Regions from separate parts of the Homo sapiens genome. Here region 1 is linked to region 2. The links come from fine-mapping of genetic effects on gene expression. A gene starts in region 2. The other region holds a variant in brackets. All regions are shown on one strand. Distances are from middle to middle. Region 1 has its middle 2.1 kb from the start of WBP2. Region 2 holds the start of MRPL38 (mitochondrial ribosomal protein L38).

Region 1 (2,906 bases), 47 kb before region 2:
GGCGGGGAGAGTCCCTCATGGGAAGGGGAGGCCGTGTGCCCCGCCTGGCTCCCACCACGTTCGCAGGCCGGCCGGGCGCCCCTCGCAGCCCCCTCTCCGGCCTCGCGGTGGCGCCGCTCCCCCCTTAGCGCCCAGCGGGGTCCCGGCCGGAAGACTGAAGGCTGAGTGGGACTGGGCACGGCGCGAAACCGGCATCCTGATAACTAGGATTTACAGAATAAGGCTGACTCCTGTCAGCTCGTGACCCAGCCCTGGGCGTCCTCCACGGGGCAGCTGTCATTCCCTAACCGCCCCCCACCAAACCCCTGCACCTCCGAGCTGAATCCGTGAGGCGGAGAGAGGGGGCTGCACTTCCCACGTGGTAGTTCCGGTACTCGTTAATGTTAAGGAATTAGAGTTTGCTTTTCAGTAGACAGCTGCTTTCCTGACTGTGGTGGCCAACCTCTAGATCCACCTGCTTGACTTCGCTTTCCAGGGAGGTCTCCTATGTGAAGAAACAAAGCTGCCTCACTAGAAAAGATCAGGAAACAGCAGCGTTCTGTGAGGTCCTGTGCAATACCAGGTTGGACCTTGCGGGACAAGTACAGTGGGTTAAGGATAGTCATAATGAAATCTGCCCCAATGGTTAGATGTATTTTGGCGCCTGCAATCTCTGCAGTCTTTAAAAAGAATTAAGTCAGACTATGTGCTGATATGGGAAGATCATCAAGGGTTATTAAGCACAGAATGCTGTATACATATAGTTGTATTTGTATAAAAAATAGGATCTAGATAGAAAATTTTTGCAAAGATCCATCAGAAAATGTCTGTGGCATTTTTGAGACATGGGTCTAGGAATTTGGGGTGGATTGGTGACTCGGTATGTCAGTATGCATTGTACTCTTTGGTACTGTTTAATTTTTTTTTCCTATGTGCGTTTAAAATATAAATTTAGGCCGGGCGCGTGGCTCACGCCTGTAATCCCAGCACTCTGGGAGGCCGAGGCGGGCGGATCACGAGGTCAGGAGATCGAGACCATCCTGGCTAACAGAGTGAAACCCCTTATTAAAAATACAAAAAAAAAAAAAAAATTAGCCGGACGTGGTGGCGGGCGGCTGTAGTCCCAGCTACTTGGGAGGCTGAGGCAGGAGAATGGCGTGAACCCGGGAGGCAGAGCTTGCAGTGATCTGAGATTGCGCCACTGCACTCCAGCCTGGGTGACAGAGTGAGACTCCATCTCAAAATAAAATAAAATAAAAATAAATAAATAATATGTAAATTTAAAAAAGAAAAGCAGGCCGGGGTTTGTGGCTCACGCCAAAGGCGTGAGCCAAATTCCAGCACTTTGGGAGGCCAAGGCAGGTGGATCACCTGAGGTCAGGAGTTCAAGACCAGCCTGGCCAACATGGTGAAACTCCATCTCTACTAAAAATACAAAAATTAGCCGGGCATGGTGGCGGGCACCTGTAATCCCAGCTACTCGGGAGGCTGAGGCAGGAGAATCGCTTGAACCTGGGAGGCAGATGTTACAGTGAGCCAAGATCATGCCACTGCATTCCAGCCTAG[G/A]CGACAGAGCAAGACTCCATCTCAGAAAAAAGAAAAAGAAAAGCAAAATCCAGGCCTGGTGCCGTGCCTGTAATCCCAGCACTTTGGGAGGCCAAGGTGGGTGGATCACTTGAGGCCAGGAGTTTGAGACCAGCCTGGACTACATGGCAAAATCCCATCTCTATAAAAATACAAAAATTAGGCCGGGCGCGGTGGCTCACACCTGTAATCCCAGCACTTTGGGAGGCCAAGGTCGGCGGATTACCTGAGGTCAGGAGTTCAAGACCAGCTGGCTAACATGGAGAAACCCCGTTTCTACTAAAAAATACCAAAAACTAGCCGGGTGTGGTGTTGTGCGCCTGTAAGCGCCTGTAATCCGCGCGCCTGTAATCCCAACTACTCGGGAGGCTGCGGCAGGAGAATCCCTTGAACCTGGGAGGTGGAGGTTGCAGTGAGCCGAGATCACGCCATTGCACTCCAGCTTGGGCAACAAGAGCAAAACTCCATCCCAAAAAAAAAAAAAAAAACGCAAAAATACAAAAATTAGTTGTGCATGGTGGCGTGGTTCCTGTAATCCCAGCTAATAGGGAGGCTGAGACATGAGAATTGTTTGAACCTGAGAGGCGAAGGTTTCAGTGAGCCAAGATCGTCCCAGTGCACTCCAGCCTGGGCAACAAAGGAAGATTCTGTCTCAAAGAAAAGAAAAAGAAAAAAAGGAAAATCCCCCCAGCAAAGAGCAGGCAGCATTGGCTGCTCTAAGGACCATAAATGGGAAGATGGGGACAACCTGCCCACCCCTCTCCCACCCCTTTGCCAAATACGTTGGAGACAGGAGCAAGTTCAGGTTTTGCCAGGCCTTGAAGCTTATACAATTTTGGAGGCTGTCTTGGTTGTTTATGTTTTTGTTTTTTGAGACAGGGTCTCATTCTGTCACCCAGGTGCGATCATAGCTCACTGCTTCCTTGGAACTCCTGGACTCAAGTGATCTGGAGGCTCTTTTTAAGAAATAAAATACACAGGCCGGGCGCAGTGGCTCATGCCTGTAATCCCAGCACTTTGGGAGGCTGAGGAAGGTGGATCACCTGAGGTCAGGAATTTGAGACCAGCCTGGCCAACGTGGTGAAACCCCGTCTTTACTAAAAATACAAAAAATTAGCTGGGTGTGGTAGCGGTCACCTGTAATCCCAGCTACTCGGGAGGCTGAGGCAGGAGAATCGCTTGAACCCTGGAGACGGAGGTTGCAGTGAGCTGAGATCAAGCCACTGCACTCCAGCCTGGGCAACGAGAGGAAAGCTCTAACTCAAAAAAAAAAAACAACCCCACAATTATTCATTCACAATACTGTGGCTACAGTGAGGCCTCCTGACAGGAGGGGAAATGAC
Region 2 (2,826 bases):
CTGCCTTAAAACAAAACAAAACAAAATAATAATAACGAAAACATACTGAGCCCTCATCAGAGATGGCATTAGGCAAAAATGCCAATGAATTGCCTCTTTTAATCCTCACAGCAATTTTGTAGCAAAGACACAATTATTTTATTTTACAGTTGAAACAAGCTCAAGGACATTATCCGAGAGGCTGAGCTAGGATTTAAATCGGGCTATTTAGATTCCACGCTTGTGCCTTTAACCACCACAAAACTGCCTCTATAAATGCTAAAGAAAAGAAAAGAAAAGAAAAGCATATACTCCATAAATTGTAAGTTCCTTAAAGGTTGGGGTCTTTTTTTTTTTTTCTTTTTGAGACGGAGTTTCGCTCTTGTTGCCCAGGCTGGTGTGCAATGGCGCGATCTCGGCTCACCGCAACCTCTGCCTCCTGGGTTCAAGCGATTCTCCTGCCTCAGAGGCCTCCCGAGTAGCTGGGATTACAGGCATGCGACACCACGCCCAGTTAATTTTGTATTTTTAGCAGACACGGGGTTTCTCCATGTTGGTCAGGCTGGTCTCGAACTCCCGACCTCAGGTGATCCGCCCGCCTAGGCCTCCCAAAGTGCTGGGATTACAGGCGTGAGCCACCGCGCCCGGCCAGGTTGGGTTCTTTTTTGAGTCACCCTGCCCAGGCCTTTAATTTCATTCAGCAAAGTATTGCACATGTACATCCTTGCACTGTTCGGGTGCAAGGATCCAATGGAGGGCAAGACAAGCAGGATCCCTGTCAACAGGGCGCTTACAATCTGGGGAGAGGCAGCGCACAGTCAGAATGCAGTGTGGCCAGAGTTACCTACAGAGTATTTGAGGCGCACAGAACGGCATCCCAATCCGGAAAGTCAGGTGGTCAAGATTTTAGGAGCAAATATTTTAGGAGCTGGAACTCTAATAGTAGGGGGAGCGAATTTTCCAAGAATGAGGTGCAGAAGGTGTGAAAAATCCTGGGGTGATTAAGCTGCCGATAGCGCACACAGGTCTGCAGGCAGGCCCTCCCAGCGTCCCCAGCATCCACAAGGGCGCCGGCAAGGCTCGCCCAGCGCCCGGGGAAAACGCCGGCGGGTCCCGAGTTCCCCGGGCGGTGGCTGCAGCCCCTGCTCCAGTCGCCCCGCACCTGTCTTCTCCCCGAAATACTCTCGGTAGGTCCGCCACCAGTGCGGGGCCTGCGCCTCCTGCTCTGCTCGGCGCCGGTAGCGGTCGAAGCTCCGGTACTTCTCCAGCCGCTCCAGGTTGCTCAAGTCGATGTCACTGTTGGGCATCGGCCCCAGCGGGGGTGTCCGGCGGCCCAGGACGGCTGCGGGCAGAGAGAAGACGTAAGGCCGGCGCCCCACAGCTCGGGCGACAGCCCCCCCCCCCCCCCCCGCAGAGCTGCCCACCCCTCACCCGAGGTGCTGAAGCCCCGCCATCTCCGACACTCGCACAGCGCGGCTCGCCACCAGGGCGCCGCCATCTTCCCTCCGGCCTGCGACACTGCGGCCGCCACTAGGACCCGGGCACAGGTGGCCAGCGCGGTGCCTGAGCGCACCACAGCAGGCCCCGCCCCTAGGCCCGCCCCCGGGCCCGCGCTGCGGAGCAGGCCTCAGACGCCTGTCCCGGAGGCCCCTGCACCGTCTGCCTCGGGCGCAGGTGGAAGGTGGCCGCGGTCTGTAGACGCCCGGCTCCGGAAGTGCCCGTTGGACGGCGGGGCGGAGCCGAGAGCAGTCATATGCTCGCCCATGGCTGGCCACCAGGGGGCGGCACAGACCGGGGTCGGCCGCCGGGGCCCTCCTCCAACCCCTGGACGCTGCGTCCTGATTTCCCCAGGGACGCAGGCCTGGTTGGGAGAAGGGGTGCGAGCTCCGATTCCGGACTCTGCTTGGGTTTAAAACCCAGATTGAGGGCTGGGCGCGGTGGCTCACGCCGGGAATCCCAGCACTTTGGGAGGCCAAGGCGGGTGGATCACGAAGTCAGGAGATCGAGACCATCCTGGCCAACACGGTGAAAACCCGTCTCTACTCAAAATACAAAAATTAGCCGGGCGTGGCATACGCCTGTAATCCCAGCTACTCGGGAGGCTGAGGGAGGAGACTCGCTTGAACCTGGGAGGCAGAGGCGGAGGCTGCAGTGAGCCGAGATCGCGCCACTGCACTCCAGCATGGGCGACAAAAGTGAAAACTCTATTTCAATAATAATAATAATAATAAAATAATAGTAATAAAAACCCAGATTGTGGCTGGGCGCGGTGGCTCATACCTGTAATCCCAGCACTTTGGGAGGCCGAGGTGGGCGGATCATCTGAGGTAATTAGTTTGAGACCAGCCCTACGAACATGGCAAAACCCTAAAGATACAAAAATTTTTGTATCTCTACTAATGATACAAAAATTAGCCGGGCGTGGTGGCAGGCGCCTGTAATCCCAGCTACTCAGGAGGCTATGGCACAAGAATTAACTTGAACCCGGGAGGCAGAAGCTGCAGTGAGACGAGATTGCGCCACCACCTCGGTGCCAGAGTGAGACACCGTCTCAAAATGCCCCTCCCCCCCCCCAAAAAAAAACCAGATCGTGACCTTACTGTCTTCCTTGTGGTTTCCTCATTTGGGAAAAAGCAGGTTAACACTAGTGCTTACCTGACAGCTGTCAGGATGAAAAGATTACCCTCTGGAAAGCGCTCGCAGTGGTTTGTGTGTTAGCTCAACTATCTCCAACTTCTCATTATCCACACAAAGGCAGAAGTGACCTGGTTAAGTGCAGATGTGAATGTTTCTGGCAGGACTCAGGCTTGCCCTTGTGATCCAGTTCTACCATGGCAAAACTTGGTA

The links. PIP is the estimated chance that this variant, and not a neighbour inherited with it, causes the effect.
Region 1: its variant is fine-mapped to the expression of MRPL38 in whole blood (TOPMed, PIP above 0.99).

The regions. Positions count from the first base shown.
Region 1 is chr17:75,855,951-75,858,856 of GRCh38, forward strand. It overlaps a transcript of WBP2 not described here. Among named protein-coding and RNA genes, the nearest start is that of WBP2, 2.1 kb to the left of the region's middle. RefSeq lists a silencer at 1-140 and an enhancer at 209-1,004. The variant G/A (reference allele first, on the strand shown) is at 1,546.
Region 2 is chr17:75,903,399-75,906,224 of GRCh38, forward strand. It overlaps MRPL38 (mitochondrial ribosomal protein L38), which reads right to left and starts at 1,486. Exons shown (of 9, transcript NM_032478.4): 1 at 1,411-1,486; 2 at 1,142-1,321. The coding sequence starts at 1,477. RefSeq lists silencers at 1,282-1,331, 1,352-1,401, 1,412-1,891.